Linked DNA regions of Homo sapiens. The protein of the gene in region 1 interacts with the protein of each later gene in a pairwise test. Each region holds a gene or a part of one and is shown in the gene's direction. Other genes may lie near its edges.

Evidence for each region.
Region 2: the proteins of PAXIP1 (region 1) and FUCA1 interact in a two-hybrid assay, tested with the Homo sapiens proteins (one large-scale study listed by BioGRID).
Region 3: the proteins of PAXIP1 (region 1) and C2orf42 interact in a two-hybrid assay, tested with the Homo sapiens proteins (one large-scale study listed by BioGRID).
Region 4: the proteins of PAXIP1 (region 1) and NPC2 interact in a two-hybrid assay, tested with the Homo sapiens proteins (one large-scale study listed by BioGRID).

What each region holds. Positions count from the first base shown.
Region 1 is NC_000007.14:154,943,944-154,947,654, reverse strand, and holds part of PAXIP1 (PAX-interacting protein 1), read left to right. Parts: intron 1-802; exon of another isoform or gene 803-841; coding exon 842-976; exon of another isoform or gene 977-1,062; intron 1,063-1,067; coding exon 1,068-1,143; intron 1,144-1,161; exon of another isoform or gene 1,162-1,229; coding exon 1,230-1,290; exon of another isoform or gene 1,291-1,295; intron 1,296-3,034; exon of another isoform or gene 3,035-3,490; coding exon 3,491-3,506; 3' UTR 3,507-3,711.
Region 2 is NC_000001.11:23,851,245-23,854,955, reverse strand, and holds part of FUCA1 (tissue alpha-L-fucosidase precursor), read left to right. Parts: intron 1-395; coding exon 396-596; intron 597-3,711. UniProt on the Homo sapiens protein: Alpha-L-fucosidase is responsible for hydrolyzing the alpha-1,6-linked fucose joined to the reducing-end N-acetylglucosamine of the carbohydrate moieties of glycoproteins.
Region 3 is NC_000002.12:70,163,474-70,167,184, reverse strand, and holds part of C2orf42 (uncharacterized protein C2orf42), read left to right. Parts: intron 1-1,549; coding exon 1,550-1,657; intron 1,658-1,992; coding exon 1,993-2,093; intron 2,094-3,711.
Region 4 is NC_000014.9:74,483,260-74,486,970, reverse strand, and holds part of NPC2 (NPC intracellular cholesterol transporter 2 isoform 2 precursor), read left to right. Parts: intron 1-534; coding exon 535-642; intron 643-2,383; coding exon 2,384-2,556; intron 2,557-3,711. UniProt on the Homo sapiens protein: Intracellular cholesterol transporter which acts in concert with NPC1 and plays an important role in the egress of cholesterol from the lysosomal compartment.

The sequences.
Region 1 (3,711 bases):
ACATCTATGAGAAATAAGTTATTCAAAGAATAGGTTTTTGAGTAATTGGTTAAGAGGCATGTTCATTTTTCTGCTTTTAATAAATCTTTAGAGGACATCGCTTACTTCGTACTATTGTCAGTAAATGTATATTCAGCTGGAGAAGATACTTGGGAAAATATTCAGTGTGTGCATAGATATAATTCAGTACTAAAAGATTTTTAAATGTTAGATAAGTGTTAGAACAGCTAGGAATTTTTTTTGTACCAAAGAACTAAGTAAATCAATAAAGATAATCGGTTCTTTAACCTTCTTAAGGAGTCAACAGGAATTAGAAATTATTTGCAGTTTCAGACAGAATAGTATTTTGTGGTATCCTCAGGAGCAATCTTGTTAGATAATTAAATCTTAAGCATCAATATCATTTCCTGCTCTGAGTTCAAATAATATGGAGAAAATAAAGAAAAGGGATATAAGCCAGGCAGCATGCTATGCCAGAGGCTGTTGCTGGGCAGATAAGTGTGGTGAAATATAATGCTGATTTAAAATTGTATAGAAATTGTGAAAAATATTTGTAATATTCTTGCTTATTCACAAAACACTTTGTTTTAGGGACTTAAGTTCTGGTTACTTTAAATCATCTTCAGGCATACTTAACATGTGAAAATGCTTACATTCCAAATTTACATAGCTGGATTCCTCTTCCACTTCAGATTGAGTGCTAGTAGGAGAATAGTACCTTCATAATGTCATAAAATTTGAAATTTTGTCAAAAATCTCAGGGCAGAATCTATGAGAATTATGTACTCTAAAAATTAAAGCATTTTAAGAACATAATACATATATTTTCATTTAATTTTAGGCAAAATATTTTTACATCACACCTGGAATCTGCCCAAGTCTTTCCACTATGAAGGCAATCGTAGAGTGTGCAGGAGGAAAGGTGTTATCCAAGCAGCCATCTTTCCGGAAGCTCATGGAGCACAAGCAGAACTCGGTGGGTAGAGTGGAGTCCGCCAGCGAGTCCGTCATTGCCCTGTATCACATTCAGCGTTCGGTCACTGAGAAACTCATTTTCTTTTCCTTAGAGTTTGTCGGAAATAATTTTAATATCCTGTGAAAATGACCTTCATTTATGCCGAGAATATTTTGCCAGAGGCATAGGTACGTTTCCCCGCTTACCTGTGTGAGTATGTGTGCACGCACAGCAGTGGATCTCTAACTAAAGTGTCTGTTTCCACCCTGTTCAGATGTTCACAATGCAGAGTTCGTTCTGACTGGAGTGCTCACTCAAACGCTGGACTATGAATCATATCCTTTCCAAAAGAGAATTAAAAAGTAGACGGGTTAGATATGAAATGGATTTCCCAGGTTAATAAGGCAGTACCTTTCCTGTTTTGCAAGCCATTTTTCCTTTCTTTGCTATTGTGATTTATGCAGTGAACAATTCTTTTCTCTTCAGAATATTCATTTGAGTTGCTAGTAAAAATATTCTCTTAACTTACTGAGAGTTCAGTTTTAATAGGTGATGTTAATTAGAAAGGATCTATACTGTCTAGTTTATGGAGGTATTAAAGAATTTGACAATTAGATAAAATAGAAAATAATTGCAAAAATAAATATATGTTTCTTTTTATCAGCTCACCTTTGAGTTTGTAGTTTTCCAAATGAAATTTAGTTCGTATATAGTCTTTGTACTCAGGAACTTTGGGATGGGAGATAAATTACTACTAAATGGAAGCGGCAGAATGAATACTTCATCAACATGTCAGGAAAATGCAAAGGTCAGTCTTTAGAATATTGACACCTAGGCTTTTTTCTATTTCAGACATTCAGGAAAAAATAAAGCTCATCATCTGTTATTTGAATTCCTTATTAAAAATCTCTGAATTATTATTTTAATGTAGGAACAGCCTATCAGTGAAGCAAAACATGCCTTACAGGTCCTTATGGGAAAATTCTGTTTCCACTTCCGTTTCCCATTGCAGAGCACCTTCTCTCAGGGCTGTTCTCAGGACTTCTCCCTGGGCCTCCTGCAATGAGGCTGGAGCTCCTCCTCTCTGTGAGGGTGGGAGCCTCTGCCACCTCTGACCAGTGTCAACCTCAGTGGACCTTTCCTTAAGCAGGGGAATTTTGTGTTTGGGATAGGACTGCTTCAGTAAGGCGCAGAGGTCAGAATGATACCCATCCTTGCCGAGTTTTTTTTTCTTCGTGTGTGCCTGTTTCATCCAGGTAATTACATTTAAGTATATTTACATTTAAATACACTGACATTCATCCAGTTAATTACATTTATCAAACATTTTCCTCTTAACGCTAAAGAGCTTATGGTTATAATAGTAGACAGAAGACCTTGATATCACTGAGAGAAAAGCACTTTTAAGAAGTAAAATTTGGCCGGACGTGGTGGCTCATGCCTATAATCCCAGCACGGGAGGCCAAGACAGGTGGATCACCTGAGATCAGGAGTTCGAGACCAGCCTGGCCAACATGGTGAAACCCTGGCTCTACTAAAAATAGAAAAAATTAGCTGGCCATGGTGGCGGGTACCTGTAATCACAGCTACTTGGTGAGGCAGGAGAATCACTTGAACCTGGGAGGCAGGGGTTGCAGTGAGCCAATATCGCGCCATTGCACTACAGCCTGGGCAACAAGAGCGAAACTCTGTCTTTAAAAAAAAAAAAAAAAAAAAAGAAGTAAAATTTGCCTCAGTCCCAGAATCCAATGTCATGTTTAGCCATAAATAAATAGCCTGTCTAGTTGGAATGAGGCTTGGTGCAGAAACGCTCTTACCATTCATACCAGAGCTTGCTGTATTCCATACCGCCATCTATTAGAAAATTATTGTAGGAGCTACTGATAGGAATGATAAGAGGCCTGTTAAATTTTTACAGATATGCTATAAGCATTTGGTTTTTATACAACATGTACTCTTGCATTTTTTCCAGACTTTTTCCTAACATTCATGTTTGTATTTGTGAAAGCCTGTTCTACACTACATTTACTTTCAGAAGAAATTGCTTTAAAAGTCATACAGGAGACTTATGAGTATTACCTTGGGGGCCTTTTTTCATATCCATAGCTTGATGAATTTTGCCCAAAGTGGACGGTTTAGAATTGCAGAGGTCACTACCTGCTCCTGCAGGTATAAGTAGGAGTCAGCTATTTGTGGTGGGGCTTTGGGGATGTCAGCTCTTGGGGGTTGTGTGTTGTACATGTTAATTTAAAGGACATTTCAGCTATTGCTGGGCCTCAGTTCTGGCCGCATGGTGGATACCTTGCGGAGCTGGCACAGGTGCTGATGTCCCCGGGCTGAGTGAGCCTGTGTGTCGGGGCTGAGGGCCTCCTGTGATGTGGGTATGCAGCAGAGCGACTGGTTTGAATGGGTAAGAAAGAGGCTGTAGCATTCCTTCAAGGGTGTCTCTGAAACTGGATGATGAATGTTGGAACCCTTGGTTTCATGTTTTTCTTTTGCCTTGTGTTTGAAAGTCGTTTTCCTCAACAAGCCTACATATAAGTTTAACTGATGGCGTCTAGGCTGCCGTGCATGTCGACTCCTGCGGTGCGGGGCTGGCTGTCTGGCTGGCGAGGAGCTGCTGCGCTTCCTTCACATGCTCTTGTTTTCCAGCTGCTTTCCTGGGGGATCAGACTGTGAAGCAGGAAGACAGATATAATAAATATACTGCATCTTTTTAAGATGTGCAATTTTATTCTGAGGAAACATAAATTATG
Region 2 (3,711 bases), on another chromosome or scaffold:
ATTTCTCCTCTTATAGAAAAAGTGATTTACCAGATGATCTTTAAAGCAAGCTCTCCCAGCCCTGACATGTATCTCTGCAGCAGGGTTTCTCTACCTCAGTACTGTTGACATTTAGGGCTGAATATTTCTTTGCTGTGGGGGCTGTCCTGTGCATTGTAGGACGTTTAGTAACATCCCTGGTCTCTACCCACTAGATGGCATACCACCCCCGTTGTGACAATCAAAAATGTCTCTAGACTTTACCAAATGTCCCCTCCAGAGCAAAATTGCCCCCAGTTGACAGCCACTGCTCTAGACTAAGTTTCTTGCTTCCAAATAGAGCCTTACCAAAGTGTATTACATAAAGAAGTCAAGTGGTTTTACTCCTCATGACCAAATATTCTTTCCCTCCTTAGGATGAGGTGGTAGTAAATGACCGATGGGGTCAGAACTGTTCCTGTCACCATGGAGGATACTATAACTGTGAAGATAAATTCAAGCCACAGAGCTTGCCAGATCACAAGTGGGAGATGTGCACCAGCATTGACAAGTTTTCCTGGGGCTATCGTCGTGACATGGCATTGTCTGATGTTACAGAAGAATCTGAAATCATTTCGGTAAGAGCACCTTTGAGTTTTTTGTTTTTGTTTTTTTTTTTTTAACATGCAGTATGATTTATTTTATATAATGTTCAAAAGCTTGCAAAAACAGCATATTGTTTACAGATGCATATTTTGGAGGTAAAATTATGAAGAAAAGCGAGATCATTATAAACAAAATTTAGGAGGGGGCTGGGATGGAGAAGGGCATGCAAAAGGGCTTTAACGGTGTTGGTTGTAATCTATATCTTAAAGTGGGTGTGGGTAGTAGGGTGTCCAGTTTTTTATTTATTTATTTATTTATTTATTTATTCTTTATTGATCATTCTTGGGTGTTTCTCACAGAGGGGGATTTGGCAGGGTCATAGGACAATAGTGGAGGGAGGGTCAGCAGATAAACAAGTGAACAAAGGTCTCTGGTTTTCCTATGCAGAGGACCCTGCGGCCTTCCGCAGTGTTTGTGTCCCTGGGTACTTGAGATTAGGGAGTGGTGATGACTCTTAACGAGCATGCTGCCTTCAAGCATCTGTTTAACAAAGCACATCTTGCACCGCCCTTAATCCATTTAACCCTGAGTGGACACAGCACACGTTTCAGAGAGCACAGGGTTGTGGGTAGGGTCACCGATCAACAGGATCACAAGGCAGAAGAATTTTTCTTAGTACAGAACAAAATGAAAAGTCTCCCGTGTCTACCTCTTTCTACACAGACACGGCAACCATCCGATTTCTCAATCCTTTCCCCGCCTTTCCCCCCTTTCTATTCCACAAAACCGCCATTGTCATCATGGCCCGTTCTCAATGAGCTGTTCGGTACACCTCCCAGACGGGGTGGTGGCTGGGCAGAGGGGCTCCTCACTTCCCAGTAGGGGCGGCCGGGCAGAGGCGCCCCTCACCTCCCGGACCGGGCGGCTGGCTGGGCGGGGGGCTGACCCCCCCACCTCCCTCCCGGACGGGGCGGCTGGCCAGGCGGGGGGCTGACCCCCCCACCTCCCTCCCGGACGGGGCGGCTGGCCGGGCGGGGGCTGACCCCCACCTCCCTCCCGGATGGGGTGGCTGCCGGGCAGAGACGCTCCTCACTTACCAGACGGGGTGGCTGCCGGGCGGAGAGGCTCCTCACTTCTCATATGGGGCGGTTGCCAGGCGGAGGGTTTCCTCACTTCTCAGATGGGGCGGCTGGGCAGAGACGCTCCTCACCTCCCAGACGGGGTCGCGGCCGGGCAGAGGCGCTCCTCACATCCCAGACGGGGCGGCGGGGCAGAGGCGCTCCCCACATCTCAGACGATGGGCGGCCGGGCAGAGACGCTCCTCACTTCCTAGATGGGATGGCGGCCGGGAAGAGGTGCTCCTCACTTCCTAGATGGGATGGCGGCCGGGCAGAGACGCTCCTCATTTTCCAGACTGGGTAGCCAGGCAGAGGGGCTCCTCACGTCCCAGACGATGGGCGGCCAGGCAGAGACGCTCCTCACTTCCCAGACGGGGTGGCGGCCGGGCAGAGGCTGCAATCTCGGCACTTTGGGAGGCCAAGGCAGGCGGCTGGGAGGTGGAGGTTGTAGCGAGCGGAGATCACGCCACTGCACTCCAGCCTGGGCACCATTGAGCACTGAGTGAACCAGACTCCATCTGCAATCCCGGCACCTCTGGAGGCCGAGGCTGGCGGATCACTCGCAGTTAGGAGCTGGAGACCAGCCCGGCCAACACAGCGAAACCCCGTCTCCACCAAAAAAATACGAAAACCAGTCAGGCGTGGTGGCGCGCACCTGCAATCGCAGGCACTCGGCAGGCTGAGGCAGGAGAATCAGGCAGGGAGGCTGCAGTGACCCGAGGTGGCAGCAGTACAGTCCAGCTTCGGCTCGGCATCAGTGGGAGACCGTGGAAAGAGAGGGAGAGGGAGACCGTGGGGAGAGGGAGAGGGGGGAGAGGGAGAGGGAGAGGGGAGTTTTTTGTTTTTTTTAATGAAATGGGGTCTTGCTCTGTCATGCAGGCAATAGCGCAGTGGCACGATCATACCTCACTGTAACCTCAAACTCCTGGGGCTCAAGTGGTCCTCCCACCTCAGCCTCCTGAGTAGCTAGAACTACAGGTGTGCACCTCTACAACCAGCTAATTTTTAAATTTTTTGTAGAGACAGGGTCTTGCTATGTTGCCCAGGCTGGTCTCAAACTCCTGGCCTCAAGAGATCTAGCCTCAGCCTCCCAAAGCACTGGATTACAGGCATGAGCCATGGCAGCTGGCCTGAGTTCACTATTTTTTAACTATGGATCTCAAACCACTTTTTATTATTATTATTATTATTATTACCTTCTAACATACTATATGATTGATTTTAATTATTTTTTTCCTCTTTTTTTAAATTTTACTTTAAATTCTGGGATACAAGTGCAGAGTGTGCAGGTTTGTTTCATAGGTATACATGTGCCATGATGGTTTGTTGCAAACTATCAACCCGATATCTAGGTTTTAAGCCCCACATGCATTAGGTATTTGTCCTAATGCTCTCCCTCCCCTCACCCCCACATTCCAACAAGCCCTGGTGTGTGATGTTCCTCTTCCTGTGTCCCATGTGTTCTCATTGTTCAACTCCCACTTATGAGTGAGAACATGTGGTGTTTGGTTTTCTGTTCCTGTGTTAGTTTGCTAAGAATGATGGTTTCCAGCTTCATCCATGTCCCTGCAAAGGACATGAACTCATTCTTTTTTATGGCTGCAAAACCAGCTTTTTTATGTAAGAGTGATGTCCAGCTTCATCCATGTCCCTGCAAAGGACACATTCTCTTTTATGGCTGCAAAACCAGCTTTTTTATGTAAGAGTGATGGAAGTACTCTGGATAGAAGTGCAGGTCAATAGAACCCTTTTAAGGACATTGAATAGACTAACAGAAACCTGTCCTAAGGAAATAATTAGAGTTACACAAGAAAGTTGTGCAGAGGTCCTTCCCAGGATTATTTGTATGTATGTATGTATGTATGTATGTATGTATGTATGTATGTATGTGTATATTTATTTATTTATTTATGAACGAACTTCACTCTGTCACCCAGGCTAGAGTGCAGTGGTGCGATCTCGGTCTGCTGCAACCGCCGTCTCCCGGGTTCAAGCAATTCTCCTGCCTCAGCCTCCCGAATAGCTGGGA
Region 3 (3,711 bases), on another chromosome or scaffold:
GAGTTTCACCATGTTAGCCAGGATGGTCTCAATTTCCTGACCTGGTGATCCACCTGCCTCATCCTCCCAAAGGGCTGGGATTACAGGTGTGAGCCACTGTGCCTGGCCGCAAGGTTCTTTAAGAGGTTGGTTAAGTACTTTCAAGTATTTTACCTGCCTTGAGGTCATATTCAGAGAGAAAGACAGATGCTTGCTGGGTAAGCAGTGTCCTAACTTGTAGTCCCTCAGCATTCATGGTGCTGACCATCGGGTGAGAGAGCATGTCATTAGTTTGCTTAGACATGAATGCAAATAGCAAGAACCTGGGGATAGCGAGCAAAAGGGAATCAAGTGGAGGCAGCCACCTCGGCCTCATTGTTCTCATCCCATCTTACTTCGCATACCCTTTAAGGGGGAAAGTCTGTGCTGTGTTGGTCTTTTTAAAATTTGCGGATTTGAAATGTTATACTTGGTGGATGACAAGGGTCTACTGTGTTGGTTTGTTTTTTCATTGTCTTTTTTCTTTTTTTTCAGTGGAGTCTCACCCTGTTGCCCAAGCTAGAGTGCAGTGGCATGATCTCGGCTCACTGCAACCTCTGCCTCCTGGGTTCAAGCGATTCTCCTGCCTCAGCTTCCTGAGTAGCTGGAATTACAGGCACACACCACCATGCCCAGCTAATTTTTTTTTTTTTTTTTTTTTTTAGTAGAGATGGGTTTTCACCATGTTGGCCAAGCTGGTCTCGAACTCCTGACCTCAGGTAATCCACCCACCTCGGCCTCCCAAAGTGCTGGGATTACAGGTGTGAGTCACCACGCCTGGCCTCTCTTTTCTTTTCTTTTTTTTTCCTTTTTGAGGGAGGGTCTCACTCTGTTGCCCAGGCTGGAGTGCAGTGGCGTGATCATGGCTTACTGCAGCCTCAACCTCCTCGACTCAGTTGATCCTCCCACCTCAGCCTCCCAAGTAGCTGGGACAGCAGGTGCATACCACCACGCCTGGCTAATTTAAAAAAAAATTTTGGCCAGGCACGGTGGCTCACGCCTGTAATCCCAGCACTTTGGGTGGCCGAGGTGGGTGGATCACGAGGTCAGGAGTTTGAGACCAGCCTGGCCAACATGGTGAAACCCCATCTCTACTAAAAATACAAAAATTAGCCAGGCGTGGTGGTGCACGCCTGTAGTCACAGCTACTCAGGAGGCTGAGGCAGGAGGATTGCTTGAACCCGGGAGGCAGAGGTTGCAGTGAGCCGAGATCATGCCATTGCACTCCAGCCTGGGCAACAGAGTGAGACTCCATCTCAAAAAAAAAATTTTTTTTTATAGACACTGGGTCTTTCTTTGTTGCCCAGGCTACACTGTGTTTTTTATGTTTGCAAGGGATCAACAGTAGGACTAGTGACAGTTCTTGGCCCAGAAAGGTCAATCAAAGCCTTCTTTTTGCCTCTGTATAAAGAAATCTCAGTGGTATTTTTAGTTATTACCGTCCCTTGATTCCTTTTCTTTCACCTCTCCCTGTACATCAGAAAGTCCACTGAGTTTCTTTAAATGAGTTGTTTCTTCTTGTTTCCCATAGGCAAACCAGAACCATTGGTGTTCCACATTCCTCAGTCATTTTTTGATGCCCTGCAACAAAGAATATCTATAGGAAGTGCAAAAAAACGGCTCCCCAACTCCACCACAGGTACAGGATTTCCCTTTGGTATAGTGATGGATGTCTCGAACATAGAGAATTATGTTTGGAAAAAATCTGTGTGGAATATTCACCGTGAGTATTCAGAGTTAGGACTTCTACTCACATGTCTGGAGCACAAAGCCTTCAATGATCAGCATATCAATTATCTACATCAACTGATTTGTCACCAAAACCTTTTATATATTTGCCTCTAGAATTTCTTTTTAAAAGTGCTGAGAATCTATAAGGAAATAATAGTACTGTATTAGAAACTAGGTAACAAATACAACAAAAGAAAATGTTATTTTTTGGTAATCTAATTTTGTCCTTTTTTCACGTTGAAGCTTTTGTTCGGAAAGATGCCTTGCCACTGGGAACCTTTTCCAAGTATACTTGGCATATCACTAATATCCTGCAAGTTAAACAAATCTTAGATACCCCAGAGGTGAGAGTTTATTTCTATAACAGTGGGAGGGTTGTGAAGGGAAGAGAGGGAGGCAAGTACAGGGACTATATTTGCACTGGTTCCTTGAGTTACAGACACCAGAGTTTCTTTTTTTCATGCTAAGAGATATTCAGAAATATCCCTGGCTTTATAGTTCTGACTCCAATTTTAATGTGTGTTCCCTATGGCTTGAAAAAAGTATCTTAAATTGGAATATACTTTTCCTTTGCCTTTGGGATTAAAAAAACATAATTTTTCTTATAAATTAAATAATGATCCCCTAATACTTATGATGAGTCCTAGATTTGACTGGCAGGCAGCTAGAAAGTATATAAATAATTTGAGATGATATAATATTTGTGAAGTCAGTGGCACCAGCACAGTTAAACCCTCCTCCCCAAACTACAGCTTTGTTCTCATTAGAGAAATGACCCTTTTTATTTTATTTTATTTTATTTTTGGGATGGAGTCTTGCTCTGTCACCCAGGCTGGAGTGCAGTGGCGCAATCTTGGCTCACTGCAACCTCTGCCTCCCGGGTTCAAGCAATTCCCTTGCCTCAGCCCCCCGGCTAGCTGGGATTACAGGCACGTGCCACCATACCCGGCTAATTTTTGTATTTTTAGTAGAGACAGGGTTTGACCATGTAGGCCAGGCTAGTCTCAAATTCCTGACCTCATGATCCTCCCAAACTGCTGGGATTACAAGGCATGAGCCACTGTGCCTGCCCGAGAAATGACCCTTTAAAAAAAATTTTTTTTTGGTCTTTTTTTTTTGAATTTTGGTTTTTTTGGGACAGAGTCTTACTCTGTTGCCTAGTCTGGAGTACAGTGGTGCAGTCACGGCTCACTCTACCTCCACCTCTTGGGATCAAGTGATCCTCCCACCTCAGCCTCCTGAGTAGCTTGGACTACAGGCATATGCCACCATGCCCAGCTAATTTTTGTAGAGATGGGGTTTCCCCATGTTGCCCAGGCTGGTCTCAAATTCCTGGACTCGAGCAATCTGTCTGCCGCAGTCTCCCAAAGTGCTGGGATTACAGGCATGAGCCACCAGGCCCACCCTATTAATTAAAAAAAAAAAAAAATTTAAGATAGGGTCTTGCTATGTTGCCCAGGCTGGTCTCAAATTCCTGGGTTCAAGCAGTCCTCCCATCTTGGCCTCCCAAAGTACTGTGATTACAGGTGTAATCTGCCTCTTCCAGCCACACTAGACATTTTATGTTTTTATTTTTATTTTTTGGAGACAGAGTCTCTTGCTCTGTTGCCCAGGCTGCAGTGCAGTGGCACGATCTCGGCTCACTGTAACCTCCACCTCCCAGGTTCAAGCAGTTCTCATGCCTCAACCTCCTGAGTAGCTGGGACTATAGGCACGCACCATCATGCCTGGCTAATTTTTGTATTTTTAGTAGAGACAGGGTTTTGCCATGTTGGCCAGGCTGGTCTCAAGCTCCTGATCTCAAGTGATCCGCCCACCTTGGCTTCCCAAAGTGCATGGATTACAGGCGTGAGCCCCTGTGCCTGTCTTACACATTTTAAAATGTTTTTCGGGCTGGGTGCGGTGGCTCACGCCTGTAATCACAGCACTTTGGGAGGCCGAGGCGGGTGGATCACGAGGTCA
Region 4 (3,711 bases), on another chromosome or scaffold:
AAAAAAAAAAAAAATGTAGTTGTTCCTGTAGTGAACAACTTTCATCAGATTTACATGCTAATCTATATGCTAGAAAAAGAAAGGGAAAATAGGAATATTTTCATCCAAAGGAAGGTTGAAGCAAACGTCTTCAAGGTTTAAGTTTAAACTGTGACCCTTACCATTAAGAATGCGAGATAAGACTCTAGGAATGTTTGGAATTTCTCTGATTGAAGTTTAATTCCTTTAATATGATCATTTATGGATATGGTCTTGATATTATTTAGTTTGACAAATATTAACTTTCTCTTGATCAAAAAACCAACTAGCTTCTTTATCATCTGAATTAAAGGCTATGATTTTAGCAGCAAGATGAATCAAGATTCTGACTTCTAATTGGGCATTATTCTTAAAGATTCCATCCTGGGAAACAGTCCGAGGAGAATGAGTTGACCCTAAATGGGAGAGCAGAGCACCTTCCCATTAGGTGGTGGGCAGCCTAGCTGGCTTATTTCTCCTCCTATTCTCCTATTCCAATTCATTTTTCTTTTGCAGGTTCTGTGGATGGAGTTATAAAGGAAGTGAATGTGAGCCCATGCCCCACCCAACCCTGCCAGCTGAGCAAAGGACAGTCTTACAGCGTCAATGTCACCTTCACCAGCAGTGCGTAAAAGTGGCTCTTAACTCAAATTCATGTTACAGCATAACCTAAATATCAAGTGTTGGAATAAGCATGGGAATGGAGGGGAGGGGAATTGGCAGTCATGAATTTTATGATTTCTTTTGCACCTCATGCAAAGCTAGGGTTCACTGTGCCCTTGGACACCCTTCTCATGCAGGGTCCATGGCTCCCAGACTCCCTTTAAGCAAACAGGGAGATGTCCATGTGTTCACAGGTTAGAGAAGACAGCTTGGCTTTTCTGTCTTGACCCATATTGCATAGTAGGCTATGATGGGAATGTCAGCTCTGTTTAGCTACAGACTGCAGAGTATTAGTATGGACCCCAATTCTTTAAGCTTTGGAACTCCTCCAAAATGTTGTTTTAAGCAGTAATGCCTTTCAGCTATTAAGTCTACATCCCACCTGAAAATAAAGGTGCAACTAATACTTAACAGCCTCCTTAAGATTTAGGGAACCCACTGGGGACCCAAGAAATAGCCAAGAAATCTGAGCTTTCTTCTCCAATATTCAAGAAATATCATTGGAACTTTTTGCTTTCTTGTACCACATCACTTTGAGATTTTTAAGAATCTAGACAAATGTAAAATCTTTTATTACTAAGCAGGGCATGTTCCTTGAATCTTTTCCTCATTTTCTGTCCTGTGAAACTAGACTAGACAGTCTAATAAGAAACCTCAAAGTTCCTGTCATCTTTTGTTCATAAGCCTAAAGACAGCTCTAAGTACTAGCTCCCTGTTTCCTCTCTGGACTATACCCTGGCCTCTCTATTGTTCCAAACCAAAAAAAAAAGCCTTCTGAACAAGTCATCCCCAACCCAGACAGAAGGAAAGAAACAGAACCAATTTTCTGGGTCTCCAAAATACCCTAATAACTCATAAGTCTGATTGCCCTCATTTTTTAATACCTTTATTCCTCCTGGCCATCTTGTGATGTGGAGGGTAAAGTTTATAAAGAATTGCATGTCTTTCTAATCTTACCCAATTTCTTTTTTTTTTTTTTTTTTTTTTTTTTTTTTGTGACAGAGTCTCGCTCTGTCACCCAGGCTGGAGTGCAGTGGCGCAATCTCAGCACACTGCAACCTCCGCCTCCTGGGCTCAAGCGATTCTCCCGCCTCAGCCTCTTGAGTAGCTGAGATGACAGGCATGCGCCACCACGCCCGGCTAATTTTTGTAGTTTTAGTAGAGACAGGGTTTTTCCATGTTGGCCAGGCTGGTCTCAAACTCCTGACCTCAGATGATCCACCCGCCTCAGCCTCCCAAAGTGCTGGGATTACAGGTGGGAGCTACTGTGATCCAGCCTAATCTTACCCTGCTAAAGGGTTACCTCTTTCACTGTTGTTACAGACCATGACATTTAAGACACACAATATACTTGGACAGAAGCTGATATAAATAGCAAACAGAAAGTTTACTGCCAAAAATCAGTTGCCTTGTTAGATAAGGTTGTTTATCCAGGTATCTCTGATTCTCCTAAGAAACTGTGAAGGGCCATGAAGAGCAAGGTTAAGAGCAAAGAAAACTTCTGCTGATTGTTTTTTTTTTTTTTTTTTTTTTTGCATAATTGTGTTTGGAGTGAATGCTTGCACTGTGCTAGTACCAAGCACCACTATCAAGAGAAATAGACCCTAGGAATGCTGTTGCTTGGGATTATTTCTGAATTTTTGATTTAGAGTTTGAAAATAGGTTATTTTCTTTGCCATCTGATTCTCTTTTTTTCTCTTAGATATTCAGTCTAAAAGCAGCAAGGCCGTGGTGCATGGCATCCTGATGGGCGTCCCAGTTCCCTTTCCCATTCCTGAGCCTGATGGTTGTAAGAGTGGAATTAACTGCCCTATCCAAAAAGACAAGACCTATAGCTACCTGAATAAACTACCAGTGAAAAGCGAATATCCCTCTGTAAGTGATACCATTATTGAGGACACGGGAGGCCTTGGGACTGGATTAGAGTTCTGAGGGCAGTGGGCAAGAAGCAGAGATGGGGGTAAAGGGCCCCTTATCTCTATGATGAAGAAGAAGCCCGAGGGAAAGGAGATAGGTGCGGTGTTAGGCATCAGGAGGTAGGGCAGGTCTTTTTCTCTGTGTCTCTTCATTCTTTCACTATGACCTGATGGTTAGCCTGGGCCTAATGATGCCATTTGTTTTTTAATATACTAAAATTTAATCATACATAAGAACTGTAATTTAATCTGACAGTAAAACACAAGAAGCAATATTAGAGTTGGTTTAGTATATTGTATATTTTAGCTTTGAAAGTCGTAGAAATCAGTTACCCCAGTTTTTTTCCTATAAAAGACCCATTTTTCCAAAGCATTATGCACAATTTCAATTAGAATATAATGACAGAGGATATTCCATAATTTTTAAAATATAAAATGAGGTAATTGATTCAAAAAAGTTATCTACTGCAATATCAATATCATTACAGATATAAAGTATGATGGTTCAACTTTTTAGTGCTTGATAGGGAGGAATCATGATAAAAAGGTCAATATGAAATCATTTGATTATAGTAGCAATATCTAACATTTGAAATGCATCCATGCTCTTTTGTATAATCATATTAGAGTCAAGTATATTTTCACATCTGTTATGTCTTATTTTCCAAGAGATATACACAGAGCAGTTTTTTTTCTCCAGGGAACTTATACAAACCAATATAAGATCTAAATTCTTCACATAATGTATAAAACAGGAGAAGCCTCTTCAAATTTATTTTTTGAAGTCTGGAATGCTGGCACTTTCCAATTAGGCAATAGTTCTTCATTCCTGTAACCTAGCTCAGAGCTGCTGCTGACTATGGGCCTAGAGCAGCAGACATGATTTCTTTTTAGGCTGTTTCTTTTCCACTGGTGTTTTTCTATTTATCTGTCTGACCAGGTCATAAAATATTTCATTAACATTGACCTTTGACTTTGCAGATTATTCTAAAATGGCACAGTTCCATCACTGTCATGCTAAATTCTGGCCCTGTTCTTTGCCAACTACTCACTCATCTTCCAGGTCACATTTATTGCCAACCAAAATCATTGGAACATCTTCTGTGTCCTTAAC